2 linked regions of the Homo sapiens genome follow. The protein of the gene in region 1 purifies or fractionates together with the protein of each later gene. This does not show direct contact. Each region holds a gene or a part of one and is shown on either strand. Other genes may lie near its edges. The genes, in order: ARPC4-TTLL3 and ARPC2.

Evidence for each region.
Region 2: the proteins of ARPC4-TTLL3 (region 1) and ARPC2 purify together in Homo sapiens (affinity purification with mass spectrometry; 2 studies listed by BioGRID, with this or other methods). This does not show direct contact.

What each region holds. Positions count from the first base shown.
Region 1 is NC_000003.12:9,817,156-9,832,731, forward strand, and holds part of ARPC4-TTLL3 (ARPC4-TTLL3 fusion protein), read left to right. Parts: intron 1-489; coding exon 490-604; intron 605-1,399; exon of another isoform or gene 1,400-1,666; coding exon of another isoform or gene 1,667-1,765; intron 1,766-3,390; coding exon 3,391-3,586; intron 3,587-8,644; coding exon 8,645-8,793; intron 8,794-9,841; coding exon 9,842-10,085; intron 10,086-11,804; coding exon 11,805-12,240; intron 12,241-15,576. Other genes in the region: tubulin monoglycylase TTLL3, read left to right, coding at 490-604, 1,667-1,765, 3,391-3,586, 8,645-8,793, 9,842-10,085, 11,805-12,240.
Region 2 is NC_000002.12:218,233,459-218,249,034, forward strand, and holds part of ARPC2 (actin-related protein 2/3 complex subunit 2), read left to right. Parts: intron 1-893; coding exon 894-939; intron 940-5,205; coding exon 5,206-5,392; intron 5,393-5,932; coding exon 5,933-6,026; intron 6,027-11,961; coding exon 11,962-12,088; intron 12,089-12,367; exon of another isoform or gene 12,368-12,460; intron 12,461-15,576. UniProt on the Homo sapiens protein: Actin-binding component of the Arp2/3 complex, a multiprotein complex that mediates actin polymerization upon stimulation by nucleation-promoting factor (NPF).

The sequences.
Region 1 (15,576 bases):
GGCTCACGCCTGTAATCCCAGCACTTTGGGAGGCCGAGGCAGGCAGATCACCAGGTCAGGAGATCGAGACCATCCTGGCTAACACGGTGAAATGCCGTCTCTATTAAAAATACAACAAATTAGCTGGATGTGGTGTCGGGCGCCTGTAGTCCCAGCTACTCTGGAGGCCGAGGCAGGAGAATGGTGTGAACCCGGGAGGCAGAGCTTACAGTGAGCCGAGATCGCGCCACTGCACTCCAGCCTGGGTGACAGAGTGAGACTCCATCTCAAAAAAAAAAAGAATGTGAAAGGGGGGACAGGAGGGACATCAGGCATTCTTGGCAAAGGACACCTCCCAGGCAAATATATGGTGATAGATGTGAGCAACTCAGACCTTGCAAGCGGGGCCAAGGCTCTGAGCGCAGATCCAGTCAGAGTCTTTCTGAACTGTCTGGGTGTGTGGTGAGTGTGGGCAGTCCTGCCCTGCCCTCTCAGTGGCTAACTCCGTAGGTGGGTCTATGTCTCAATCTCCGGAATTTGCCGTGGTTTGATGAGGTTGATGCCAACTCCTTCTTCCCACGCTGCTACTGCCTGGGGGCTGAGGATGACAAAAAAGCCTTCATAGGTAAGGAGACCCCCAGCCCTATGCCTGAACCTCAGGCTGACAGAGCAGGGCTGAAGCTCTGGCTCATATTGGAGAGAAACAGGCCTCTCTTCATGCCCTCATCTGCCTGCCCCAGCAGATTTCCCTTTCCACCCTCAATCCTTATCCTTCCCTAATGTGCCCTCCCTTAATAAGCCTCTTAGCTTGGTCAACTCTGACCTCCAGAAAAGCTTGGGTAGCTTGGCTTATATTCTAGAGCAGGTTCTAAAAGTTGGTCAGTCCCTTGAGTTTGGAATCCAGAACAGATTCCAGGCTTATATCAAGTTCCATTTGTTGAATTGGGTTCCAAAAAAGGCTGCAGGCTTTGGATTTCTAAGGCAGACTAGGTTCCGATTCCACAATATGTTCTAAATTCAGGTTAGAATTTGGATCCAGATTCTATGCTAGATTTAAATTACATTCAGAATCTGAACTAGGACACAGTCTGGTTCTCAGGACAGAATAAGTATCAAAAGTAGGTGATGAACAGAAGAAACAAATCAGACAATGGGTCCAAGCCAGATTCTGAAGGCAGAATATGATCCAAGTCAGGTCAGATTTGGGGTCTGGTTACACAACTGAAACAGGAGCAAGTTCTTTTTTTTTTTTGAGACGGAGTCTCGCTCTGTCACCCAGGCTGGGGTGCAGTGGCGCGATCTTGGCTCACTGCAAGCTCCGCCTCCCAGGTTCCCGCCATTCTCCTGCCTCAGCCTCCCGAGTAGCTGGGACTACAGGCGCCCGCCATCACGCCTGGCTAATTTTTTGTATTTTTAGTAGAGACGGGGTTTCACTGTGTTAGCCAGGATGGTCTCGATCTCCTGACCTCATGATCCATCCACCTCAGCCTCCCAAAGTGCTGGGATTACAGGCGTCAGCCACCGTGACCAGCCTGAAACAGGAGCAAGTTCTAAACTCAGGCTCTAGAGTCAGAAAAGGTAGAGTCAGGTTCTGGATCCAAAATGGGGCAAGTCATGATCAGGTTCTGGAACCAGAACAGGCCTCAAGCCTAGGGGCTGAGCAGGGTATCCCCTGGCCTGGGAGCAGAGGACTTCTGGCTGACTGCTGCCCGCAACGTTCTCAAGCTGGTGGTGAAGTCTGAGTGGAAGTCATACCCTATTCAGGCAGTAGAGGAAGAGGCCTCAGGTAAGTACTGTGGTTACCTCCACTCTCCCACCCATTTATCCTCCACCCATCCGCCCTTCCACCTATCTGCCCTTCTACCTATCTATTCATCCACGCACCTACTGGTTCATCCACACATCTGTGTATGATTCACATCTACCCATCTATCCATCCATCCACCAGCCATCCATCCACTCATCCACCCACGTATTCACCCACTCTCTGATCTACCGATTCACCCACCCACCCTTCCACTCATCCTTCCATCCTCCCACCTGTCACCCATTGTTAATCTCGTCATTCATCTACCTGATGTCAGCTCCATACTCCCCATCCATCTATCCACTCCCTGCCTACCTATCCTTCCACAGATCCACCTACCCATCTATCTACCTGCTATTCCATTCTCCCATCTACTACCTATCTGTTCTTCAGGCCATCCACTCATCCATTCTTCTGTCCCAGGTACTTAGACACTTGTCTTCCCATCCGTTTGTTAGTTGATCCACTCCTCATTCAGCCCTCCCATGGGCCTGGCATGTAGCCGAGCACCCTGGAGAGGGCAGACTAAGAAGACATGGTCCGTCCCTGCCTGTGAGGAGTTCAGGTCTCTGAGGAGGAGGAAGCAGTGAAACTGGGCTTTACACATGGCCTGAGAACAGCTTAGGCCTGAACATAAGGAACAGCTTGGAGTGGAGGGGACACAGAGGAACCCTCACTATCATGCATGCCAACCCAACCACTGCCTGCCCTTTCCCTTCTGGATTTAGCTCGTGTCTCCAGGCTCCTAGTCCTGTAATCCAGGGACCCATCAGCGAGGGATTCAGGGAAGCAGAGGCAGCTCTCCAGGAAGGAGGAAAATCCCTGCCTCTTCCAGAGAGACTCCCCCATTGCTGTCTCTTGTGTGTGTCATGCACAAGGAAGGCTTGGTTGTGTGCCAGGATAAGGGGCACAAGGGCCTCGGGTGTGGCCAGAGACCCCATGCTTAAGCTTTTATGGTATAGGTCAGGCTGCAGGGGTTTGAGGGCCTCAGTTGTATATCAGAATCTTCAGAGCACTGCGATGTTCAGGGGTGAGTCAGGTCTGTAGATGTGCACGGGGTCTTCTGAAGGGTCAGTTTCTGTAATCACTTTCAGGTGTGTCAGGGCCTTGTGCAGTAACAGTGCACACAGAAGTTAGTGTTTCTGTGGGCTAAGGGTTGTAGCTCTGTATCAGGATTCTGGGAGTGGGTCTGGATTTCTGGTGTGTGGACTTAAGAAGCTGTGTCAGACTTGGGGGAGGGGCGTTCATGTATAACTGGGTTCACATAGGCCAAGACTCCCAGGTGCATTTTAGGCAGAGCCTCAGGTGTGTTAGAGGTCCCAGGGGCAGAGAGGCTATAGGTGCTGTCAGAGGCCTTGGGGACATTTAGGGCAGAGCCTCGAGTGACAGGTCCTGGGACAGTGGGAGCCAAGGGCAAGTGCTAGAGTTGCAGTGAATTTAGAGCAAAGCCTCAGCTAAGTGACACATCCCAGGGCAGTAGGGGATCTATCTAGGTTCGTGCTGGGCCTCAGGTAAGTGACAGGCCTTAGGACAATGGGGGCTGTGGCATGCGTCAGGTTACCTGCCTTGATATGGGATCGTGACAGGCCCCTCCCTATGTGCAGGAGACAAGCAGCCCAAGAAACAGGAGAAAAACCCAGTGTTGGTGTCCCCAGAGTTTGTGGATGAAGCTCTGTGTGCGTGCGAGGAGTACCTTAGCAACTTGGCCCACATGGACATCGACAAGGACCTGGAGGCCCCGCTGTACCTCACCCCCGAGGGCTGGTCCCTCTTCCTCCAGCGCTACTACCAAGTGGTCCAGTGAGTCCCCTGCAGCTGGGACTTTGGGCTGTGGGCAGGTGCTTAGGGATAGACCCTTTCTGTCTCGTGCAGCCCCTACCCCTTCCCCAAGCCTCCCGCTCGTTTACCCCGCTGTTCTGCTCAGGAACCCTCGAGGACTCCCACTGCCTCCGTGATAGGGTCTGGGCCACTTTTCTTGGTTCTTGGCATAGCATAGTCACTAAGAGCATGGACTGTGCCACCAAATGGACAGCACATTACCCAAAGTGTGTGTTGTGTGGATGTTAATTCTACAGGAAGTAAATAGATTTTATGAAAAAAGGGCTTTTGTGGTCCATCACATTTGGAAAACACTGGATTAAGCAGTTAAAGAGGCTTCCCTGGGGCAGTACTCTTCAGAACCTGTGGGTGGTGTAAGCCTATAGAGAGAGTGCGCTGCTTATCCTGTACTTAAGTGAGCCCAGTGCCCTGCCTCCCACCAAGCATCCTGAGGGGCAGTGTTTTCTGAACACACTTTGGAAGAAGGTTCTTAGGTGGGGAAAGGGAGGATCAAGGTGAGCCTGGTGCTGCTTTAGGGAGATTCCATTCGGGAGAAGCATGCAGGAGCAACTGGAGGGAGAACAGCCCTGAAGGCAGAACACACAGTAAGCATTTCTTGAGCAACTCCGATGTGCCAAGCATTGTGCCAGGTTCTGAAATGAAGCGTAGCCCCTGTTCTCAACTGGGACACAGCTCAAGGTTTGAGACCTGCAGGAAGCCAGGTGGGAGTGCTAGGAATCTCAGCTGGGGTGGTGGTAATGGGAAGAAATGGATAGATTTAATTACTCAGTAGGGGAAACCGAAGAACTAATGAATGACATGAGCAGCAGATCCACATCATTAGCACGTAATTCACTGCATCTTTTCTAAATGCCAGGACATAACTCAGGTGGCCCGGTACTTTCTCTTTAGCTACTGGAAAATGTAAAGCTGCCCATTTTAAATTAAGAATTATCAAGGTGGCCAAGCGTGGTGGCTCACGCCTGTAATCCCAGCACTTTGGGAGGCTGAGGCGGGCAGATCACTTGAGGTCAGGAGTTCAAGACCAGCCTGGCCAATATGGCGAAACCCCATCTCTACTAAAAATATGAAAATTAGCTGGGCATGGTGGCGCACGCCTATAATCCCAGCTGCTCAGGAGGCTGAGACAGGAGAATCGCTTGAACCTGGGAGTCGGAGCTTGCAGTGAGCCGAGATCGCGCCACTGTACTCCAGCCTGGGTGACAGAATGAGACTCCGTCTCAAAAAAAAAAAAAAAAAGAATTTTCAAGACTTAGAACATTAGTCATGAAGCACGAGTCCCTTTTTTTTTTTTTTTTTTTTTGAGACAGAATCTTGTTCTGTTGCCCAGGCTGGAGTGCAGTGACGTGATCTCGGCTCACTGCAACCTCCACCTCCTGGGTTCATGCGATTCTCCTGCCTCAGCCTCCCGAGTAGCTGGGATTACAGGCGCCCACCACCACGCCCGGCTAATTTTTTGTGTATTTTTAGTAGAGATGGGGTTTCACTATGCAGGCCAGACTGGTATCGAACTCCTGACCTCGTGATCCGCCCTCCTCAGCCTCCCAAAGTGCTGGGATTACAGGCATGAGCCACCGCGCCCGGCCATGAGTCCTTTTTATTTCTGGTGTGTGGGGGCAAGTTCTGGAGGGCTATAAGAACCTCTCTAAAGTCGGGATTACATAAAACATTGCATCATATAACAGACATACACAGTGTTGAATGGTTCAGTACAAATGACCAGCATTCATTCATTCCCTCAATATTTTATTTTATTTTTTTGAGACAGGGTCTCACTTTGTTACCCAAGCTGGAGTGCAGTGGCGCAGTCTTGGCTCACTGCAACCTCTGCCTCCCAGGCTCAAGTGATTTTCCCACCTCAGCCTCCTGAGTAGCTAGGACTACAAGTGTGTGCCACCAGGCCTGGCAAATTTTTGTGTGATATACATATATCGTTGTATGTATATATTATGTATTATATATATTATAATATATATAATACATAATATATACATATATATATATATTTTTTAGAGACGTGGTTTCACCATGTTGGCCAGGCTGGTCTTGAACTCCTGAGCTCAAACAATCCGCCCGCCTTGGCCTCCCGAAGTGCTGGGATTAACAGAGTGAGCCACTGCACTCGGCCTAATTCATTCAATATTTAGTGTTAATGCTTCTCAACTTTTTAAAAAAAACAATTCCACTTGGGGCGGTGGCTTATGCCTATAATCCCAGCACTTTGGGAGGCCAAGGCTGGCGGATCATGAAGTCAGGAGTTCAAGACCAGCCTGGCCAATATGGTGAAACCCCATCTCTTCTAAAAATACAAAAATTAGCAGGGCCGGGCACGGTGGCTCACGCCTGTAATCCCAGCACTTTGGGAGGCCAAGGCGGGCAGATCATGAGATCAGGAGATCGAGACCATCCTGGCTAACATGGTGAAACCCCATCTCTACTAAAAATACAAAAAAATTAGCTGGGTGTGGTGGTGGGTGCCTGTAGTCCTAGCTACTCGGGAGGCTGAGGCAGGAGAATGGCGTGAACCCAGAAGGCGGAGCTTGCAGTGAGCCGAGATCGCGCCACTGCACTCCAGCCTGGGCAACAGAGCGAGACTGTCTCAAAGAAAAAACAAACAGCCAGTTTTTTTTTTTTTTTTTTTTTAAATCCTGGATTTTAAGAACTAAGCCAGCCAGGTTTTCATCAGGCTGACTTTTCATTAAAATACTGTTTTTTTTTTCTTTTTGCTAACTATAAAATCATATTGTCATGTCGAATATACTTTTTCAAATTACGCTCCTGTGTGATATTTTCCTGGGCCACATCACAGATTACTGAAAAGATACTTCATGCTACGGACCACAGAAAAGTTTGTCAGGACATAGGTGTGAGTACTCCTGGGAGACCTTGCCTAGCCCCCTGCATCTGGCTGTCCCTGTTCCTGGCACTGCCCCAGTGGCTGCTGCCTCCTCCTTAAAAAAGAGAAAGTTCTCCATGACTGGAGACACTCAAGATGCTAAGATGTCACAGAGTTAGCTTCCCCTGAACAGGAGGCTCCCGTCCTATTCAGTCAGAAGGAAAGAAATGCGAGAGTCTGGATGAGGCAGCCATCTGGGGTATTTTGTGACTTGGTTTAGTTCAGGACATTTTCTGTCTTGTAGAGAACAGGGTCCCTCTTTGTCCATGAAACCCTGTCCGTGCAGCCCAGTTGCTGAGGCAAGCTCCTACCAAAGTACTTGCTGAGCCAACCGTTCATTCATTGAGCAAACTTCCAGGGAGTACCTGCTGAGTGCCAGGTGTGGTGCTTGGGGATGGGGATTATAGCAGAGAACAACTACAGAAAATGTTCCTGCTCTTACGGAGTTTACATTGTAGTTAGGGGATTCAGACAATAACCAAATAAGCACATGTGTTAGGTGGGGGTAGATGATGGGAAGAAAACAAGCAAGAAGAGGTGTGATATAGAAGTGCTTGAAAGGAATTAGGCTAACATTGTTTCAGCCAATATTAGGCACAGATTAAGACAGGAATGAACCCCAAAAAGCACCTGTGGGTGGAGGAATCAGACAGGACAGAGTTTGAATCCTGGCTGAACCACTCAACTTTCAGTGTATGGCCTTCGGTAAGTCCCTTAACTCTCAAAGCTTCAGTTTACTCTTTTTGTTTTTTGAGATGGAGCCTCGCTCCGTTGCCCACACTGGAGTGCAATGGCGCGATCTCGGCTCACTACAACCTCCGCCTCCTGGCTTGAAGTGATTCTCCTGCCTCAACCTCCTGAGTAGCTGGGATTACAGGTGCCCACCACCACACCCGGCTAATTTTTGTATTTTTAGGAGAGATGGGGTTTCACCATATTGGCCAGGATGGTCTCAATCTCTTAACCTTGTGATCCGCCCACCTTGCCCTCCCAAAGTGCTGGGATTACAAGCGTGAGCCACTATGCCCGTCCCAGTTTACTTTTTCTTTTCTTTTCTTTTCTTTTTTTTTTTTTTTTTTTTTGAGACGGAATCTTGCTCTGTCGCCCAGGCTGGAGTGCAGTGGTACGATCTCGGCTCACTGCAACCTCCGCCTCCCTGGTTCAAGTGATTGTCCTGCCTCAGTCTCCCAAGTAGCTGGGATTACAGGCACCTGCCACCATGCCTGGCTAATTTTTGTATTTTTAGTAGAAACAAGGTTTTGCCATGTTGGCCAGGCTGTTCTCGAACTCCTGACCTCAGGTGATCCGCCTGCCTCCGCCTCCCAAAGTGCTGGGATTACAGGCAGGAGCCACCGTGCCTGGCCCAGTTTACATTTCTCTAAAATGGGACCAGAGCTGGGTGTGGTAGCTCATGCCTGCAATCCCAGCATTTTGGGAGGCTGAACAGGAGGATGGCCTGAGGCCAGGAGTTCAAGACTAGCCTGGGTAACATAATAAGACCCATCTCTGCAAAAAATAAAAATTAGCTTGGGTGTGGTGGCGTATGCCTGTAATTCCAACTACTTGGGAGGCTGAAACTTGGACCTAGGAGTTCCTGGCTGCACTGAGCCGTGATTTCACCACTGCACTTCAGCCTGGGTGACAGACCAAGACCCTGTCTCAAAAAAAAAAAAAAAAAGTCGGGGGGTAGGGGGTGGGTACTAGTAATACTTCCCTGGCAGGGCCTTGAGGGCATTCGTGAAAATATATGGAAAGCCCTTGTCACAATGCCTGGCACATAGTGGTGCTTTATCATTAGGAACTGGAATGATTAAATTCTGTCAAAGACAGTTTTAATGTAATAGGAAGGGGGTGGCACAGGTGGAGTGTTGGAGTAGGGGGTGGTTTGCAGTTAATGGAATTTTATCAGCCTTTCCCATTTGTGTAGTCTGGGCAGGTTAGGATTTCCGGGGTGGCTTGAAGGTGGGGCCGGAGGCTTGGGAGGGACCTATGGATATCTGCAGGGAGGGCGTGACCAAGGCTGCCTGGATGACGGCGGGGGATGGTGGAATATATCTCCCCCTGCCCTCTCCACCTGCATGTCCCAGGTCCAGCCCTGCCCAAGTTCTATCATTTCCCCACAGCGAAGGGGCAGAACTCAGGCACCTCGACACTCAGGTCCAGCGCTGTGAGGACATCCTGCAGCAGCTGCAGGCCGTGGTACCCCAGATAGACATGGAAGGGGATCGCAACATCTGGATCGTGAAGCCAGGAGCCAAGTCCCGCGGACGAGGTGGGGGTCAGCTCCTGCTTCCTGCACTGGCACCTCACCACCTGCATCTACCAGTAGAGGCCAAGGAAGTTAATAGTGCAGGTCTATTGAAGCCAAATTGCCTGGGTTTGAGTCCTAGCTCTGCTACTAATGTGCTTCGTGACCTTGAGCAGGTTTTAGCGCCTCCCTGAACCTCAGTTCCCTCATCTGTGACATGAGGAGGATGATAATACCTCCTGTGAGGTGAGGATTAAATGCAGTCATGCAGCTAAAGCACTATTCCAAATCCTCAACGTGCTTCAATTTATGCAATCCTGGGAAACGGAGGCACGTGTAGGCTTTCACATGATCCAGAAGGATATCCATAAGGTCCTGGAAGCAGCAGTTGGCTGCCTCTAGACAAGGAGATACATTTTTTATTGTATGCCCTTTCGTACTGCCTAATTTTTGTTTTGTTTTATAGTCTATTTATTATTGGTAGGAACGTAATAGGTGCACATACTTTAAAAAAGCCCCCAACACTGGCCAGGTACAGTGGCTCATGCTTGTAATCCCAGCAGTCTGGGAGGCCGAGGCGGGTGGATCACTTGAGGTCAGGAGTTGGAGACCAGCCTGGCCAACATGGTGAAACCCTGTCTCTACTAAAAATACAAAAATTGGCCACGTGTGGTGGCAGGCACCCATAATCCCAGCTACTCGGGAGGCTGAGGCAGGAGAATCACTTGAACCCGGGAGGCGGAGGTTGCAGTGAGCTGAGCTCGTGCCACTGCACTCCAGCCTAGGTGACAGGGCTGTCTCAAAAAAAAAAAAAAAAAAAAAAAGTCCAGCACTTTAAATTTGTATCCATGTATGTATTCCTGTTTAATCAAACAAAACTGGTTAATTAGGAAAAATTTAAAATCCTTAGCAAATTCCTGGCTTTCCCAAAGGGAACTGGGTTCTGATTGAGGGAGACAGCCTTACCCACTCAGCCCTATCAGCTCCGAGGGGACAAGAGCTCATGACAAGCTGGCCCTTCTCCTGGCCCACGCCTGACCTTCCAATCCCTGACTGCCCTCTTCCCCCGTAGGCATCATGTGCATGGACCACCTGGAGGAGATGCTGAAGCTGGTGAACGGCAACCCCGTGGTGATGAAGGACGGCAAGTGGGTGGTGCAGAAGTATATTGAGCGGCCCCTCCTCATCTTTGGCACCAAGTTTGACCTCAGACAGTGGTTCCTGGTAACTGACTGGAACCCACTTACCGTGTGGTTCTACCGCGACAGCTATATCCGCTTTTCCACGCAGCCCTTCTCCCTGAAGAACCTGGACAAGTGAGCCCCTCTGCTCGCCTCCCACGAGCTCCCTGCCTAGTTGGGGAGCTGGCAAGCAAACAGGCGATTACAGTGCAGGGGACTCGCGCAGCAGCGCTAGGCTCCACACACAGACTGCAGGCAGGCAGGCCCTCATCCTGCCAGCTGTCCTTGCATCCAACAGATTTTTTTTTAACAGACAGGGGGCGGTCTCACTCTGTTACCTAGGCTGGAGTGCAGTGGCATGGTCACGGCTCACTGTAGCCTTGACTTCCTGTGCTCAAGCAATCCTTCCTCCTCAGCCTCCCAAGTGTCTGAGACCACAGGCATGTACCACAGCTGATTTTTAAGTTTTTTAATGTAGACATGGGGTCTCACTATGTTGCCCAGGTTGGTCTCAAACTCCTGGGCTCAAGCGATCATCCCACCTTGGCTTCCCAAAGTGCTGGGATTACACTATGCCTGGCCCCTCCAACAGATTTGACCGAGTGTGTACCTTGTGCCATGCACTGTTCTGGGCACTTGGGGTATAGCAGTGAACAAAACAAGATCCCAGCTCTCAAGGGCTTACATTCTAGCAGGGAGAAACAGGCAAGCAAGAACACAAGTGAAATTATCTAACAGGTTAAAAGATTATTTGGGCCAGGCGCAGTGGCTCATGCCTGTAATCCAAGCACTTTGGGAGGCCGAGGTGGGTGGATCACCTGAGGTCAGGAGTTCGAGACCAGCCTGACCAATATAGCGAAACCCCGTCTCTACTAAAAATATAAAAATTAGCCGGGCGTGTTGGCGGGCGCCAGTAGTCCCAGCTACTCGGGAGGCCGTGACAGGAGAATTGCTTGAACCTGGGAGGTGGAGGTTGCAGTGAACTGAGATCGTGCCATTGCACTCCAGCCTGGGTGACAGATCAAGGATCTGTCTCAAAAAAAAAAAAAAAAAAAAAGATTATATTTGTCGTTGGGGGAAAAAGGGAAGCAAATGTAGAGCAGGGGAAAGGAGGTCAGGAGTTTTGAAAACTAAGATGTCGTGTTAACTTCTAGGGTGAGAGAAAGCCTTGTTAAAGCCTGAATTCCAATTCTGTCTCTGCAGCTTCCAAGTTGTTTGAATCTGGTCATGTGAAAACCTATTTAAGCCTTGGTTTCCACATCTGAAGAATGGAGGCAGTAGTATGAAATTCATAGCTATCAATTATTGAGTGCTTCATATGTGATAGTGCTGAGCACTTTGTATACATGATCTCATTCTTAATAAGAACCCAGTGCATACTTCTTGTTCACCAGGTCTGAAGAAAAATATAAAAAACAGTGAAGTGGGTACTGTTACTACCCCCATTTTGCAGATGTGAAGAGCACACAGGTTAGATGACTTCCCTAAGGTCTCACAACTAGTGTGGAGATGGCGCTTGAACACGTCCTGGCGATGACGGGGCCATACCCTTACCCACCCTCTTATCTTCCAGACACTGGGATGGTTAACTGAGACTATGCACAAAGCACTTACTACTGCGGCCCCCGTAACTAGCGCCCTCAGAGCAGCCCTGAGAGATAAGAGTGGTTCTGGCCCTAGAAGAATGTGGTGGGGCCCAGGCCTCTGTCCTTTTTGTCCTTCCCAGTAGGGCCCCATCTCAAGTTGAATAGTGCAGGGTGGCCCAGGGCTGCTTCCAGGACTTGCCTGTCCTCCCTGAGTTTGGATGGGAGAGACACAAGGGCCTGGACCTCAGTTTTCTGTTCTCTGCCCCAGCTCAGTGCACCTGTGCAACAACTCCATCCAGAAGCACCTGGAGAACTCATGCCATCGGCATCCACTGCTTCCGCCAGACAACATGTGGTCTAGCCAGAGGTTCCAGGCCCACCTGCAGGAGATGGGTGCCCCAAATGCTTGGTCCACCATCATCGTGCCTGGCATGAAGGATGCTGTGATCCACGCACTTCAGACCTCCCAGGACACCGTGCAGTGTCGGAAGGCCAGCTTTGAGCTCTATGGCGCTGACTTCGTGTTCGGGGAGGACTTCCAGCCCTGGCTGATTGAGATCAACGCCAGCCCCACGATGGCACCCTCCACAGCAGTCACTGCCCGGCTCTGTGCTGGCGTGCAAGCTGACACCCTGCGCGTGGTCATTGACCGGATGCTGGACCGCAACTGTGACACAGGAGCCTTTGAGCTCATCTATAAGCAGGTGAGGAGGTTGGGCCCAGGCAGGACCCCAGAGAGTCTGCACCCTCTTCCAGGCAGCCCTGCAGTGGAGCATAGGACTCTGCAGTCAGACCCAGTTTAAGACCCAGATTCAAGTCCTGGTCCTGCTAAGGTGACCTCACTTCCTTGAGCCTCAGTTTCCTGATCTTTGAAATGGGGATATTATTACCATCTTTCTCATGGGAATGGGAGAATAAAATGAATTCATGTATGAGGATAATATTTCTAGAGAGGCATATAGCATAGCCATAAGAGCAGAGATTCTGGAATCTCCTTGGGTTCAAATTCCTGTTCAGTGACAACAAGCTATGTGACTTTGGACAAGTTCCTAACCCCTAGGTCTCCTTGTCCGTAAGAATAAAAATAGTACCTAACTCACAAAGTTAGGTACTATGAGTTGTGAGAATTAAATGAGTTGATAAGTAAAGTACTTCATTTATTTATTTTTGAGACAGAGTCTCGCTCTGTTGCCCAGGCTGGAGTGCAGTGGCATGATCTTGGCTCACTGCAACCTCTACCTCCTGGGTTCAAGCGATTCTCCTGCCTCAGCCTCCCAAGTAGTTGGGATTACAGGTGCCTACCACCACGCCTGGCTAATTTTTGTATTTTTAGTAGATACAGGGTTTTGCCATGTTGGCCAGGCTGGTCTCGAGCTCCTGACCTCAGGTGATCCGCCCACCTCGGCCTCCCAAAGTGCTGGGATTACAGGCAGAAGCCACCGTGCCCAGCCAGTAAAGTACTTTAGAATAGTGCCTGGCACGTAGTAAATGCTACTAAGTTTTAGCTAATGTTATTATTACCTAATAAGGTTAGGAGTTTCATCATGTATAACCTGTAAAGTGCCTGAATGTATAGTAATAGGCAATTACTGGTAGCTACTATTATTAGTAGTATTATAATTATTTCACTCGTCTTGCTCCAAAAAGAGATTGGAGTCTACTTGTAAAATAGAACAGCATTTTAAAAAATCAGTCAGAAAATTGATTGCAAGGCTTTCTGAGTTCTGGATAGAATTTCTTGTGGCAGTTTAAGTGGCTTCTGATTAGCCTCCGGTTTCTGTCAAGGTTTGGTTACAGGAAGAGAACGTACTGATCACATGACCTAAGTGACCTCGCCTTTGTTACAGTTGTTATTGATCATTTCTTAAATTAATATATTGGCGTTTTGGTTTCAAAAAATGTAAACGGGGAAATACATGGGCAGGAAAATATGAGCAAGCTGAGGGAAAAGGTGCCATTGTAGTGCAGTGCTCCCAATGCCAGTGCCCAGGCCAGAAGCATCTGAAAGCTTCTAAAGGTATGGATGTGAGGAGGCTCCACCCCCAGAGATTGACCCAAAATGTCTAGCTTGGGGAGGAGACTATGTATATCTGCATTTTTCAAATGCCCCCCAAATATCTTTTTTTTTTGAGACGGGGTCTTGCTCTGTTGCCTAGGCTGGAGTGCAGTGGCACCATCTCGGCTCACTGCAAGCTGCGCCTCCCGGGTTCAAGCGCTTTTCCTGCCTCCGCCCCCTGAGTAGCTGGGACTACAGGTGCCTGCCACCATGCCCGGCTAATTTTTTGTATTTTAGTAGAGATGGGGTTTCACCATGTTAGCCAGGATGGTCTCGATCTCCTGACCTCGTGATTTGCCCGCCTCGGCCTCCCAAAATGCTAGGATTACTGGCATGAGCCACCGCGCCAAGCCCTCTAAATGTCTTTTATTGCTGATTTGTTCTTGTTTTTGTTTTTAGGCCAGCACATAGTAAAGGCTTATACCTTGCACTGTTTTTTTTTGTCTCTTTTCATCTAGGCCAGCCCCAGTGCCTTTTGACCCCATAGTTTTGATCTTTTGAGGGGCCAGGCGGGTTGTTTTGTAGAACTGTCCCACATTCTGGATTTATCTGATTGTTTCCTTATGGTGTGATTTACCTTGGTCTTCTGTTAGCTGATTGTCTCAGGAACTAGAAGTTAGGTCAAATAGTTTGATGAGGTTAAACATTTTTCCCAAGAGCACTTCAGAGGTGATGCCGCGTACCTCATGTGGCATCACAAGGCACATCCTGTGAGAGTGTCTCACAGTTAGTGCTGCTGAGTTTGACTGTGGGTTACAGTGGTGGCTACCAGATTCTCTCCATTATAAGCTACATCTCCCCTTTGCAATTAATTTTTCTGTAAGGTGCTGTGTTGGCTCTGTCCAGATTACACATTTTCCTGTCATCCTTTCATCTAATTGTTTTGATACCAGTTTTGATTATTGCCTATTTTATTAGAGTTGCAAAATGGCAAATGTCTAATTCTGTTGTTCCTTCTGCATTTATTAGCTGAGATTCTTCTGTAAAGATGAACTTTCCCTCATCATCTGGGGCTACTTGGGAGTGCTGATAGCTACATTTTTATTTGATTTTTTTTTTTTTTTTTTTTTAGACAGAGTCTCACTCTGCCACCCAGGCTGGAGTGCAGTGGTGCTAGCTCGGCTCACTGCAACCTCCGCCTCCCGGATTCAAGTGATTCTCCTCAGATCCCGAGTAGCTGGGATTACAGGCGCCCACCATGGCCGGCTAATTTTTGTGTTTTTAGTAGAGATGGGGTTTCGCCATGTTGGCCAGGCTGGTCTCCAATTCCTGACCTCAGCTGATCCGCCTGTCTTGGCCTCCCAGAGAGCCACCGCGCCCGGCAATAGCTGCATTTTTTTTTTTTTTTTTTTTTTGAGACGGAGTTTCGCTCTTTTCACCCAGGCTGGAGTACAATGGTGCGATCTCGGCTCACTGCAACTTCTGTCTCCTGGGTTCAAGCAATTCTCCTGCCTCGACCTCCCGAGTAGCTGGGATTACAGGTGCCTGCCACCATGACCTGCTAATTTTTTTGTATTTTTAGTAGAGACAGGGTTTGGTTATGTTGGCCAGGCTGATCTCGAACTCTTGACCTCAAGTGATCTGCCAACCTTAGCCTCCCAAAGCTCTGGGATTACAGGTGTGACCACCATGCCCGGCCAATAGCTGTATTTTTAACAAGCTCCAAGTAATTCTGATGTTTAGATAGATTCTGATCAGGATCCTTCAGTGGCACAGAAGATACCTCCAACTGGCTCCAGGTTGCTAGCAAGGCACAGGGAGCTCTCCTGGAGCCCAGCTGAGGGCAGGACATACAGCTTGGCCTGATAGGAACTGAGAGTTGTAAGGGAGTCCCTCTCCTGGACCCTTCTCTCTGCCTTCCTCTGCATATTCGTTACTTCATTCTCTCCACAGACTGTCTTCTTTAAGGTTCTTAGTTTCTGCTACCCCATAACCTGGATTCACACGAGGCTCTAGGCAGGCTCCAAACCTCTTACTTGTCTGG
Region 2 (15,576 bases), on another chromosome or scaffold:
TTTTCATTTAATTCAAAAACCTGGAAAGTAGCCAGCAGTAGGTTCTGGTTTGGGGGGAAAGACATGGAGAGTATACAACCTTCTGGACACCAGTATTAATAGCTAGCTAAGATTTCATTATTGACTGTCCTTTGCCTTAAGAGCTGGCTATGCACTGAGTAATTTTAAAGCATACAAGATCAGCAGACAAACAGATCAGTTCCCGAGAGTCCTGGTTTTTTCTCTTTATTCACCTGGGTTAGTGGCTCAGTCTGTACTTAGGTTGATAACTAACAATCTGTTCTCTCACTTGGAATTTGGCATCCTTTTGCTCTCTTGAAAACAAAACATGATTAAGTACAATGTAGGATCTGGAGGAGAACAGAGAACATATTAAGGGTGTAGTCAAGTCCTAAAAAAGGATGAGCTTTGATTAAAGATTCTCGGCCAGGCATAGTGGCTCATGCCTATAATCCCAGCACTTTGGGAGGACGAGGCGGGTGGATCATCCAAGGTCAGTAGTTCAAGATCAGCCTGACCAACATGGAGAAACCCCATCTCAACTAAAAATACAAAAAAAAATTAGCCGGGCATGGTGGCGCATGCCTATAATCCCAGCTACTTGGGAGGCTCAGGCAGGAGAATCACTTGAACCCAGGAGGCGGAGGTTGTGGTGAGCCGAGATCGCGCCATTGCACTCTGTCCCAGGCATAAAAAGATACTCATCTCAGTTTTGTGACTTGTTTGGTGACTAAATCCACTTCCCCTCTGTCTCTACTTTCCCATCCACCAAATGAAAGTTAGGAAGAATGCCAACTTAGGAAGAGCTTGGCAAGTGCAGTACTTTAAAAATAATGAAATTATCATGGCCTTTGGATTAACGTATTTGGTTTTGTTTTGTTTTTATTTTCTAGTTATTAAAGAGGGTGTACGGGAGTTTCTTGGTAAATCCAGAATCAGGTATGTAGTCATGTGAGCAACTATGGAATGACATGGGAAGAGAGGTGTCCTTTTTATATTATGCTTTTTTTACCCAAAGGATTTCGTTTAAATATTATTACAAATATTTCTGCATGAGCCCATTCCTAATTTCAACTCCGTCCATAAAAATAGCTTTTAAGGGGCTTTGCTTTGTCCAATATGGAACACAGTAGAGGTACAAAATTGATGTGTGACATTTTTAACATTTACTTGATGGGGCCACATGACTCTTACTTAATCTTTCAGCCAGAGGGCCACATTTGTTTGTTCATGGTGATTAAAATGGCTTTGAAAAGAATGAGCAAACATTGATTCCCACCCTCGGCCCTTAGTAATTCTGCATACTACATATTTGGAGAAAGAAGAGGAATATTCACCACACTATTCTTGTGATTTCAAGTAATAAAAATCAGACCCTTTCTTAATCCAGTCTTCTAATAGGTTGTCTCAACATTCATGGCCAGAGGAATTGAAAGGCACCGTGTCATCCTTGAATAGAACAGCTATGTTATACTGCTTTAAAAAGGAGGTTTAAAGTGGAAAAACTGAACAGCCTTTTTACCCTGTGATTCAGTGGCATGTCTCAAATTCTGAGGCATTTAGCAGGACCCCAAAGTGAGAACCAGGTAGTAAGACCATTGGAACATAATATTTTTTACTCAACTATTACAACTTTGGTACCTTGATTAGAAAAGTCTTCTAAGAAGGAAGTTCTCTGTCACTCTTAACAGCAGTTACTTGTGCTAGCTTATTTCATCACCTCACCTATTTTTTCAGACAGTCTCATTCTGTTGCCCAGGCTGGAATGCAGTGGTACAGTCATAGCTCACTGCAGCCTCCTCCAAATCTTGGGCTCAAGCAATCCTCCCGCTTTAGCCTCTCCGGTAGCTGGGAACTACAGGCACATGCCACCATACCCAATTAATTTTTTTAATATTTTGTAGAAACAGAGTCTCACTGTCTGCTGCCCATACTGCCAAAACAGAGTAAGGAGGTCTCAAACTCCTAGCCTTGAGCAATCTACCCACCTCAGCCTCCGCCTCCCAGAGAGTTGGGATCACAGGCATGAGCCACCATACCCAGCACCTTTTTTTTTTTTAATCTCCAAATTGGCGGGATGAATGTGTCACAGAAATAAAAGCCAAGATAACACTGTAGGCTTTTGGCAAAATCAAGGTATTAAAAGAAAGAAACAAACAGATCTAGAACAGAAAAATCATGTCCAAAGTCTTGGGCATGCTTGTCACAGCCAACATCCTGACATGGAAAGTTTATGTTTCTGTCCCTGGGCCTCCTTCTACCTCCCACTAAATCATAGACATTGCCAGATTGCAGACCCTGTCTTCATAGAAGTGTGAAATGTAAAAGTGTGTGAAAGTAGTGTCTCAACCAGGTGCAGTGGCTCACACCTGTAATCCCAGCACTTTGGGGAGGCCAAGGTGAGTGAATTGCTTGAGCTCAGAAGTTCAGGACCAGCCTGGGCAGCATAATGAGATACCTGTCTCTATAAAAAATACAGAAATTAGCCAGGCATGGTGGCAGCCACCTGTAATACCAGGTACTCAGGTGGCTGAAGCACGAGAATCGCTTGAACCCAGGAGGCAGAGGTTGCAGTGAGCTGAGATTGCGCCACTGCCCTCTAGCCTAGGCGACAGAGCAAGATTCAGTCTCGAGAAAAAAAAAAAAAAGACCGTAGAGTCTCTCCTCCTCTTTTTTAATGGGTTTATCTAGGCACGTTTGGAAAACTCAGCAAGTTATACTAGATTTTTACTTCTCTTCATCCTCAGTATATTCTGTTCATCATGTTAGAAGCCTTACTTAAAGACAGACTTTACCTTAGCTATAGTTTTATTTGCTCTTATTTGGCTTCCTAAAACTAGCAAACCTCAGCTCTAAATCTTTTCTTTTTTAATCTAACCTTGTAATCTGTGTGCTTATTTGGTTTTCAAGTACCCAAAATAGAATGATGATTGATATTATTTAATACTGGAGTGCCTCTCCAGTATTAAATAAAATGTGCTAAGCATTATCTAGAGCAAAGATTTAGCCCATCCTCCCGAAGAGCCCATGCTCAACAAAAAACACAGACCTCAGCCGGGCGCGGTGGCTTATGCCTGTAATCCCAGCACTATCGGAGGCCAGGGCGGGCGGATCACCTGCATTCAGGAGTTCAAGACCAGCATGACCAACATGGAGAAACCCCGTCTCTACTAAAAGTACAAAATTAGCCAGGCCTGGTGGCGCATGCCTGTAATCCCAGCTGCCTAGGAGGCTGAGGCAGGAGAATCGCTTGAACCTGGGAGGCGGATGTTGTGGTGAGCCGAGATCATGCCATTGCACTCCAGCCTGGGCAATAAGAGTAAAACTCCATCTCAAAAAAAAAAAAATACAGATCTCAGGAATGCTTTTGGGAAAAAATGAAATAGTAATGAGGTTTCAGATACTTAGAAGTGTGAAAGCCATACAGTTCTGGTGAAGTTATTCCCGTCAGTTGCCTAGAATATAAAATGATCCTCAGTGATGTAGAAATATTCTTGCAAAAACATCTCTAGGCAGTTTGACACTTATTAATCATTTGATTCTATAATCAAGTGTTCCAGCCGGCTTCTGGGAATTCATAGTGGACATGCTGTAAAAAGGCAGGTCATCCAATGGTTTCAGTCCATGTTCTGCACCCGTATTGATGACCTGTCATGTTCCACACACTTTAAGTATTGAACATTCTTTTAATGCTCACAACATTCTCCCCTATCTCCGCACCCCCTGCCCTGCTCCTTTTTCTTTTTTTCTTTTTTTTTGAGACAGAATTTCACTCTTGTTGCTCAGGCTGGAGTGCCGTGGCGCGATCTCAGCTCATTACAACCTCCACCTCCCGGGTTCAAGCAATTCTCCTGCCTCAGCCTCCGGAGTACCTGGGACCACAGGCGTGTACCACCACACCCAGCTAATTTTGTATTTTTATTAGAGACGGGGTTTTGCCATATTGGCCAGGCAGGTCTCGAACTCCTGACCTCAGGTGATCCACCCACCTTGGCCTCCCAAAGTGCTGGGAATACAGGCTTGAGCCACTGTGCCCAGACCACCCTACCTGCCCCCCACCACCAATTTTTTTTTTTTTTTAACAGATGAGGAAATTAACAAGTCAGGCAATTTTTTTTGTTTTTGTTTTTTTTTTTTGGAGCTGGAGTCTCGCTCTGTTGTGCAGTGGTGCAATATCAGCTCGCTGTAACCTCCACCTCCTGGGTTCAAGCAATTCTCCTGCCTCAGCCTCCCAAGTAGCTAGGATTACAGGCGCCCGCCACCATGCCTGGCTAATATTTGTGATTTTAGTAGAGACAGGGTTTTGCCATGTTGGCCAGACTGCTCTCAAAACTCCTGACCTCAGGTGATCTGCCCACCTTGGCCTCCCAAAATGCTGGGATTACAGGTGTGAGCCACCACACCCAGCAGTTTTTTTAAGGTCACAAAATGACAAGACTAGGATTTGGACCCAGTTCTGTTCGACTCAAAATAGAGTGCCCTACACTTATGTGTCATGCTGCATTTGGCAAGTCACGTCACTTCTTTGAATCTCCTTTTCCCTCTGCAAAACAGTAACCTTATCTAGCCTGCAGACTTCAAAGGTGGTTATGGAGATCAAATGAAGTAAAATGTTTTAAAAATTGTACAATATATACCAATAAAAGCTATTGGGGAGGTATATGTATGAACAGGTAGTTGGTTTTTCTACCCTGCCACCTCATAAAGAGTTTGCAGTGGCACGTAGAAGGGTTTATCTTATTATCACAAAGCTACCCATTTGCTGGCCATACTGATACTTGGCACATTAAACTATCAGAGAAATATATGTGGCTCCTTTACAACTGTGTCTAGAAGGGTACATTTCCAATCAGAGTTCCCAGGTTCTGACTTTCTCCCATTACATATTTGTAATTAGTCATCTTTGATACTGATTCAAATTTTTGATTAACATTAATTATATATATTTACAAGAATCTTATAAAAATTAAGATTTTATTTCACCTCATTTTGCCCTGTGAGATAGATGGAAATAGACTATATTCTACCCAGGTTAAAAGTACAGATAATGAGACAAAATGTCAATAGAACCTGAAAAAAGATTTTTTTAGTTGCCTCTAGTCTCTGTTTACTTGGTATAGATAGTATGCTGCTTTTTTTTTTTTTTTTTTTTTTAAATGTAACTGCTGGGTTGTTTTTTGTTTCTTGTTTTTTCTTTCCCTCCAGGATACAATGTCTCTTTGCTATATGACCTTGAAAATCTTCCGGCATCCAAGGATTCCATTGTGCATCAAGCTGGCATGTTGAAGCGAAATTGTTTTGCCTCTGTCTTTGAAAAATACTTCCAATTCCAAGAAGAGGGCAAGGAAGGAGAGAACAGGGCAGTTATCCATTATAGGGATGATGAGACCATGTGAGTATAGAATTTGGTCCTGAAGCCTGGATATGGCTGCTACACCACCATGGCACTTACTGAAAGAAATATGGCTTGGTCAAACTTTCAGCTGTATTGCGTGAAAATGTTTTTCTCATAAAATGTCTTAAGCCAGGAAGTAGATGATAGGGCAGAAATCAGCCACTCCTCCTACTCTCCAGATACTGAGAGCTGACAGATGGTGGAAAGAGAATCCAGTGCTTTCCTTTAAGGCACCACTGTTCTGAGTCATGTTTAAGAGTATAGCCTGGATAATCAGCAGGCAGGGTGACCATAGGTCCATGTTATATTTACAAGTCAATAAAATCTACTTCTGATAATTTCCATCTGCTGCCTCTCTTAGGGCATTCATTTTGTGCACTGACTTTGTTGACCATAAATATCATCTCATTTGGCACACCTTTATATTATGATTTAAGAGATTTATGACTTTAGCCTTCTGATGTACTTGTAGATCAAGTTATTGACAAAACCCCATTCTGATTCTGTACTTATCCTCATGGATTTTGTTCCTCTCAGGTATGTTGAGTCTAAAAAGGACAGAGTCACAGTAGTCTTCAGCACAGTGTTTAAGGATGACGACGATGTGGTCATTGGAAAGGTGTTCATGCAGGTATGGAGCAGACATCTTGGGGGAAACCCATGCATGGCGACTTATACCTTTGCACCCAAACATACCATGAGCGTAGGAAAGAGATCTAGCAACTCTACTGATGTTAGAATTTTTTTTTTTTTTTTCGAGACGGAGTTTCTCTCTTGTTGCCCAGGCTGGAGTGCAATGGAGTGATCTCGGCTCACTGCAACCTCCGCCTCCCAGGTTCAAGCAATTCTCCTGCCTCAACCTCCTGAGTAGCTGGGATTGTAGGCATGCACCACCACACCCAGCTAATTTTGTATTTTTAGTAGAGACGGGGTTTCTCCATGTTGGTCAGGCTGGTCTCAAACTGCCGACCTCAGGTGATGCCCATCTCGGCCTCCCAAAGTGCTGGTATTACAGGCATGAGCCACCATGCCCAGCCTTGACGTTAGAATTTGTTGAAGATTTAATAGACAACTCCCACAAAACTCAGTGAATATTTTTTGTTGCTGCTGCTGTTGTTTTGAGGTGGAGTCTTGCTCTGTCGCCAGGCTGGAGTGTAGTGGCACGAACTCAGCTCACTGCAACCTCCGCTTCCTGGGTTCAAGCAATTTTCCTGCCTCAGCCTCCCAAGTAGCTGGGATTACAGGCACGCGCCACCACGCCCAGCTAATTTTTGTACTTTTAGTAGAGATGGGGTTTCACCGTGTTGGCCAGGATGGTCTCAATCTCCTGACCTCATGATCCGCCCGCCTCAGCCTCCCAAAGTGCTGGGATTGCAGGCATGAGCCACCGCGCCCAGCCTGATATTTTTTTTCTCAGTGGTTTAGTTTTGCAGGACAGAACTAAAGGGTAAGTTGAGAATTAAACATACTAACTATGAATGAATGTTATGCATCCTTCCTACTGTGGGGTCTTTGACCTAAAACTTTGTCAGGTTTCCTAACCCTAACCTCTTGTGTTTCCTCAGATTTCTAGTAAGGTGGCTGCTCTTGGTTTGGTCCTAAGGTCTTTTCAGAATGGACTGTATAGCCAATTATTTGGTAGTAGATAACGCATGAACAGGTAGAGTTGTTGAACTGACAGACTGAGCCTGAGTTTGGATGGGTCACCATAGAGTACTTCCCTCACAAGAAGCTCATCTTAAGAAGAGTCATGAGAGGCCAGGCGCGGTGGCTGACGCCTGTAATCCCAGCACTGTGGGAGGCCGAGGTGGGCGGATCACGAGGTCAAGAGGTCAAGACCATCCTGGCCAACATGGTGAAACCCCGTCTCTACTAAAAAAATACAAAAAATTAGCCGGGTGTGGTGGCAGGCACCTGTAATCCCAGCCACTTGGGAGGCTGAGGCAGGAGAATCTCTTGAACCTGGGAGGCAGAGGTTGCAGTGAGCCAAGATTGCACCATTGCACTCCAGCCTGGGCAAAAAGAGCGAAACTCCGACTCAAAAAAAAAGAGAGTCCTGAGAGTTAGCAGGGCATTTTGTAATTGGATTTTTGGTGTAGTTGCATTCAGGTCATTGTGTACCAGTCTGCTGGCCAGTTAGTTGCTGCCTCTAGGATGGACATGAGAGTTCATTGGTCAAGTGACATTCAGGCTGGTTTCTTCTGAGATGGCTCAGCATTCAAAATCTAGTACAATGGTAAAATTTTTTGAAAACGTTACTACCTTCATTCTGTTCCTTGGCAGGGTGGTAAAGATTTTTAAATTCTGAAGCAGAATCTCTTTTGCCAAATAGAGTTGAAAGACAGCTGTGCTTAACAGTAAAGATACTTTGCATAGCCTTCTAAGTGGCTAGGAAAATCTTCAAAAGTGATATTCTCAACTGCTCCATCCCTAGTGGCTTTTGTATTTTGGCTAATTAATCAGAAACTAGTTTGGGAGTCACTATACAGAAAAATTGGAATATTGACACTTCAGCATTTGCTAGTGCTGAACTTGATGAAGGAATATATAAATATACATGTATCTCTTGGGTCCTAAAAGTAAGCCTCTAGAGAGGCATTTCATGTGTTTTTATGCAGAATTGACAGGGGAATTAAATGCAGTAGCTCAGAAATTGGGCTAAATCCAGAGTAACAAAACTAATTTTAAAAGCTCTGAAGTATATATTTAGATTTGGCTGGTTTTTTACCAATCTTATTCCATTTTATTCCAGGAAACAACTTATTTTTATACTTTAAACAGATCTTATCTTGGAGAGTGTACCGGAGATTTGTTCCTTAGGAGAATTTTGTGTATTCTTTTTTGGCATATGATTTAAATGCCTCCTTCAGGGTACCTGTGGTAGGGCACTTACCTAAAAGGAAAGACAAAGCCTCTTTTGCATTTTGGCACTAACAGGATCTCTGGATAGTAACTGGCCTGGTGCAGTGCTAGCTAGACTCAGGAAGTCATCTGCCCTGCCACCCTTTCCAAATTCAGAGGCTTAGGTAATTTGTTGGAAATGACAATCGGAAACTGGACTTTTGCTGGATTTTCCCAAAAAATAAATAGAACTTTTTCCTAGGCCTGGAATTGTAAATTTCTCGGAAAAAGAATGAGGGACACCTGGCACAGAAAGTTGTACCCTGAGAACACTATTTGAAGTTCCTCATGGTCACTAGTCTACTTGTTGCCAGCCTTTGTGGCCTTTCCCTTCCAGCATGCACATCCAGCCTGATCAGAATTCAAGTCTTGCTTTTGTCATTTGGCAAGCAGGCTCTGAGGGATGCTTTCTACCTCTCAGAAAAAGACAGGAAGTGTATTCCTCCACACTAGTGGTATGGGCATATCAGCTGAGTACTGGAGAATGTCTGATAGAAGCCATCATTTCAATGCTTATTCCATGAAAAGCAATAGGACCAGTAATTATGCTTTTGGAGATTAGCTTATGGTGAACTAGAATTCTTTTCATATTCTAAGATTTTAAAGTCAAGTTAGTAACTAAATAACCAGGAAAAGTTAAGTGGAAACCACTGGTTTTTATATGTTCAGGGACAAAGACACAAGCACCTGCCTCTTAGGCAGTTGTAAAGATGTATTTTGAGGGCCCTTTCTGCCTGTTTGCATGTGTGGGTATGTCTGTAGGATATTTTCCTGAACTGGGAACACTGAGTCCAAGTCAGTAATTTTGGTAGACATTGCCAAACTCTTCTCCATCAGGGTAGTGGCATTTTATCATCTACCAGTGATGGAGAGGAGTGCCTGTTTTCCCAGAGTATGTTGTAAACTTGTGGATTTCTCCTGATCTGATAGGTTAAAGGTGGTATCTGTGTCTGCTTATGATGACATAAAAAGATGTTCTGAGGTCAGAACATCTTTTCTTAATGTTATAGACCATTTGATTTTCTTATGAAGTGTCTCTTTATGTCCTTTACCCATTATTCTGTAGGGTCATTGAGCTTCTCAATTTCTTTACATACTAGGGAGAGTAGCCTTTCATCTGTGATTAAGAGTTGAAATATTTTCTCCAGTTTGTCATTGGACCGTGTTTTGTGGGGTTTTTTCCACCATGTGGAAGTTTGTTTTTACATAATCAAATTAATCAGTCTTGCCTTTTATGGCTTCTAGATTTTGAGTTATAGGTAGAAAGCCCTTCCCTACTCGAAGGTTATAAAGAAATTTACCTGTTATTTTCTGAGTATTTTTACAGTTACATATTTTATACATGATTTTTTCTTATTTGTTGAGAGCTCCTCTTGTTGTATGGTATGAAAGAATGATCTTTTTTTCCTAAATGGCTATCCAGTGGTCCCAGTGGCAATTATTTCCTTTTTTACACCCCTGATTTAAGATGCTACTTTTATCATATGCTAAATGCCTTGTATATATTTGGATTTATTCCGAACTTCCTATGATAAATAGTACTTTGGAAGAGAGAAATAATCTGATGCTCAAAAGACATCCTAGCCAGAAGGAGAGTAAAAAGGCAATATTGCTTGATTACGTATAACAAAGATGCCAATGAAGATGGAGGGCTGTTTGGGTGTGTTTGTTTGTTTAAGCTTTATTTAGGAGAGAGAACTGAGGAGAAGCAAAGACATCAGAGAATCTAAAGAATAGTCCCAGTCAGGCACAGTGGCTCACGCCTGTAATCCCAGCACTTTGCGGGGCCTAGGCAGGTGGATCACTAGAGGCCAGTTTGAGACCAGCCTGGCCAACATGGTGAAACCCTGTTTCTACTTTAAAGGCCAAAAATTAGCCGGGAATGATGGCACACGCCTGTAATCTCAGCTACTCGTGAGGCTGACACATGAAAATCACTTGAACCTAGGAGGTGGAGGTTGCAGTGAGCCAAGATCACGCCACTGCACTCCAGCCTGGGTGACAGAGTGAGACCCTGTCTCAAAAAAGAAAGAAAGAATAGGCCCAAGCCAGAAACGTATCGTTGACCGAGCCTTAAATATGTTATTTTCCATATACAAAACTAATGAGTGCTAATAAGTCACCACTGGTTTATAAATACCCCATCTCATTGTGAATACCACATGTACCTGTGAATTAGAGCCTTGGAGACACTTAACAGACACAAGAAAATGCCAACAGTTACGTATCTGTTCTGTTTAATTCCTTAATACCGAAAAGTAAAACCAGTAAAAGTTAAAAAGCTTCTTAACCCCTTTGTAGAATAAAAAATGTTTTCTAGAGAAGGGCGATTTTAGAAGCTTTGCTCTAGAAATTTCCATTTGGGATAATCTTGACTCCTTCCCTTCCTTTTTGGATATTTTTCCTTCGGGGAACAAAATCTGTTCAAAAGGGGACTAATCTAACCCAGTTGATGGTCATTTCTTTTCCTACTTAAAGCTTGGTAGTGTTAGCATGAGAGGCAGTTTGTGAAATAGGTGAGGTCCCAGGCTGGGCATTGGGGCTCCTCAGCCATCATCTTTCTTTTGCCACTAATTGTCGAGAGGGCTTGCTAATCAGTGTTTATTCTTCCTGCCTGCAACTGGAAACAGCCCTTGCCTATTCCTGTACAGTGTGATGATACTAAACCAGCTAGGGTAGAAGCACTTGCTTTCTCTCAGCAAGGCATGTGCTGCATAGCCTCTTTGAAAGACAGAAGAATAAATTACAAAGATAAATTAAGCAGGATCTTTGATTTGAACTCATAACCTGGTAGGGGAGCCAGATACATTAATGAATGGTAAAATATCATAGTAGAGGTTTGTAGAAAAGACATGGCAGCTCCAGCAAGAGAGCAGTACCTGCCTGGGTTTGTTGGAGATGGTATTAGGAGGCAGTATTTGAGCAGCAGTAGAAGGGCACGCAGGCCACATGGCTGTGTAACCATGCCTTCAGAACTCCTAAAACAAGAGACCTTGGAGAGTCCTTGGCAGCATCCTCCTGCTGTCTATCATCTTGGAAGGCCCACTTGATGAATTTGGATTATCCAGTTTTACTGGCATTGCTAGAAAATCTACTTCTGTTCTTGCAGATCTGGCTGAGAGAGAGAAGCCTTGTATTACTTGTCTATTTACATAGGAATGTATGGACTGTAGAAGCTTCAGGTTTGGAGATTGGAACATAGAAGGAAGGGCTTCCTTTATGAGCACCAAGACAACTCAGCTTCTTTCATTCCATTGTCTTCTGTCCGCAAGAAGAGCTTAAGTTTGCTCTAAAGATTTTATTGATGAATTCTAAATAGCAACAGGATCCTCAGTGAAAAAAGACTCATGCAAAGTCCCAGAGCCCAGAGAAAGTATGGTAGTTTATCACCTATGTTAGTGCAAAGGAAAAGGATTATCACTACTTTTCATCACATTTTGAAGATCTGACTTATTAAGTACTTTGCAGTCTCTCCCGTTTGAATCTGAAGTGTAGTGGTAGCAGCTAGCACTTGTCATATTTCAGGTTTGGTGTAGTTTATTTTTAACCTCCTGCTGGTCTGGAGGGCTACAAAGGTCACACCACATAGAACAAACCCTATAGCTTGAGTTGCCACTCATCTTACACCCACTTCTCTTCTGGTTGCTTTTGCTTTGTCTTGGCAGGAGTTCAAAGAAGGACGCAGAGCCAGCCACACAGCCCCACAGGTCCTCTTTAGCCACAGGGAACCTCCTCTGGAGCTGAAAGACACAGACGCCGCTGTGGGTGACAACATTGGCTACATTACCTTTGGTGAGCAGGGTGCACTTGCTGCTTTTGTGCCGCTTTAATGAGTTCACACAGCAGAATACCTAAATCTGCACAGAACCTTGGTTAACATTTTAAGGTAGGCAAACGCAGGCATACCAACTTGTTCCTGTTGCCATTGCAGTGACTAAAGGAGGGATGTCACAGGGTATTAATTACAGAGCAGGCCATATGCTATTTTTGTACAGTAATCCTTTCCTTTTTTTCCCCATTTTTCTTAAATCTTAAAAATAAGACTGAATTCTGATATCAAGAGTTAAGGTCCCTTCAATAGTTCAGCTGGTAGAGCAGAGGACTATAGCTACTTCCTCAGTAGGAGACGTCCTTAGGTTGCTGGTTCGATTCCAGCTTGAAGGAGACAAGTACAGTTTTGGCTGGGCACGGTGGTTCATGGCTGTAATCACAGCACTTTGGGAGGTTAAGGCAGGTGGATCACGAGGTCAGGAGATCAAGATCATCCTGGCCAATGTGGTGAAACTCTGTCTCTACTAAAATACAAAAAAAAATTAGCTGGGCATGGTGGCGCACGTCTGTAGTCCCAGGTACTCCAGAGGCTGAGGCAGGAGAATTGCTTGAACCCGGGAGGTGGAGGTTGTAATGAGCTGAGATCGTGCCACTGGACTCCAGCCTGGGCAACAGAACAAGACTCTTGTCTCCAAAAAAAAAAAAAAAGAGTTGAGGCTGGGTGCGGTGTCTCACGCCTGTAATCCTAGCACTGTGGGAGGCCAACATGGGCAGATCACCTGAGGTCAGGAGTTCGAGACCAGCCTGACCAACATGGTGAAACACTCCGTCTCTACCAAAAAAATAACAAAGAAATTAGCTGGGCGTGGTGGTGTGCGCCTGTAATCCCAGCTACTCGGGAGGCTGAGGCACAAGAATCCCTTGGACCCAGGAGGCGGAGGTTGCAGTGAGCTGAGATCACACCATTGCACTCCAGCCTGGATGACAGAGTGAGACCTTGTCTCAAAAAGAAAAAAGAAAAGAGTAAAGGATAGGCGGGGCACAGTGGCTCATACCTGTAATCCCAGCACTTTGGGAGTCCGAGGTTGGTGGGTCACTTGGGTCCAGGAGTTTGGGACCAGCCTGGATAACATGGTGCAGGCTCATCTCTACAAAAAGCAAGGGGCCAGGCACAGTGGCTCACACCTGTAATCCCAGCACTTTAAGAGGCCAAGGCGAGCAGATCACTTGAGGTCAGAAGTTCGAGACCAACCTGGCCAACATGGTGAAACCACACCTCTACTAAAAATACAAAAATTAGTTGGACATGGTGACATGTGCCTATAGTCTATAGTCCCAGCTACTCGGGCAAGCGAGGCATGGCAATTGCTTAAACCCAGAAAGTGGAGGTTGCAGCAAGCCGAGATCATCCTGCTGCGCTCCAGCCTGGGAGACTGTCTCAAAAAAAAAGATAACTAGGCATGGTGGTGCATGACTGTAGTCATAGCTACTTGAGAGGCTGAGGTGAGAGGATCACTTGAACCCAGGAGGTAGAGGCTGCAGTGAGCTGTGATGGCACCACTACACTCCAGCCTGGGTGGCAGAGTGAGACCCTATCTCACCAAAAAAAGGAGTTAAGAAGAGAACCACCTAAGCAGCTAGATGGGGGTTCTCTGTCATTTGGCAATTCTTGGTTTTTTGCTTATTAAGCCCAAGCTCCAGCCGTGATCCACTTACTCCACTTTTTCGCGGAATAAATTCAGGTCTTCCTTCAGTTGCTCCAGCCTCATGCACTGGCTGATTATGATAGCTTACAGTTTGGAATTAATAAGCTTGTTCACACTGCACCCAATGCCACTGGAATGTCTCCTTTGTGAAATGTAATTTAATTCACCTCAGTGGTAAAGGTGAACCTGTTTATTGGTGATGAATCTGTTGATTTACCAAATTTCATTAAATCTAAACTATACACTTTTTTCTTTTTTCTTTCTCTCTGTCACCCAGGCTGGAGTGCAGTGGTGTGATCTCGGCTCACTGCAACCTCTGCTTCCCAGGCTCAAACAATTCTCGTGCCTCAGCTTCCCAGGTAGCTGGGACCACAGGCGTGTGCCACCACACCCGGCTAATTTTTGTATTTTCAGTAGAAACAGGGTTTCCAGCTGGGCACGGTGGCTCACGCCTGTAATCCCAGCACTTTGGGAGGCCGAGGCAAGTGGATCACGATGTCAGGAGATCGAGACCATCCTGGCTAACACAGTGAAACCCCATCTCTACAAAAAATACAAAAACTTAGCTGGGCGTGGTGGTGGGTGCCTGTAGTCCCAGCTACCCTGAAGGCTGAGGCAGGAGAATGGCGTGAACCTGGGAGGCGGAGCTTGCAATAGGCCAAGATCACGCGACTGCACTCCAGCCTGGGCGACAGAACAAGACTCCGTCTCAAAAAAAATTAAAAAAAAAAAAAAGAAACAGGGTTTCCATGTTGGCCAGGCTGATCTCAACTCCTGGCCTCAAGCAATCCACTCACTTCAGCCTCCCAAAGTGCTGGGATTACAGGCGTGTGCCACTGCGCCCAGCCAGCTATACCATTTTTTTCAAGTTTTTGTCTTTGAAGCTGGGATGCATCTTACAATTCATAGCATGTCACACTTTAATTGGCAGCATGTTTCTCTTGTGGTACATAAAATTATGGCAGACTTACAGTCATAAGCACCTTAGATTCTTTGAAGTATAGTTGTCTTCTGTTGTGGTGTTCATTTACTTTCAGGCCAGGGCACATTGACACAGAAATTCCACACTTCCTTAGGAGGCATTCCTTTTCATTTCAACGAAAACTTCAGACAACTGACGGGGTTTTGCAGATAGTGAGTAGAGGAGGTGCAGCAGGTAAAAACGATTCCAGAAAACCAGGGCAAGAGGGGCATGCAGGCCTGCTGTAGTGCAAAGGACTTTGTGATGAGCACACAGGTCTTTTTTTGAGATGGAGTCTTGCTCTGTCACTCAGGCTGGAGTGCAGTGGCACCGTCTTGGCTCACTGCAACCTCCACCCCCCGGGTTTAAGCGATTCTCCTGCCTCAGCCTCCTAAGTAGCTGAGATTACAGGCACACGCCATCACATGTGGCTAATTTTTATATTTTTAGTAGAGATGGGGTTTCACCATGTTGGCCAGGCTGGTCTCAAAACTCCTGATCTCAGATGATCAGCCTGCGTCAGCCTCCCAAAGTGCTGGGATTACAGGCGTGAGCCATCGCGCCCAGCCTCACACAGGTCTTTAGGTGGCTGGTGTCACAGGGTGGACTTCAGTCAGGCCCATTCAGAGCAGCTCCTCCTGCCTGGCCTATCATGAGGGTTCAGGTCCTTACACCTTATTGTCTGTTTTCACAGTGAGAATATGGGAAATTCTCTGGCATCTGTTTTCTGGGAAGGTTTACTCTATTTCAGCACCAAGGACCTAAGACAGGCAGCTGCATTTCCTAATCCTGATTCCTTAAAGTAAACTGTTACAGCCAGTTAGTGTGATCCTGGAGTGTGT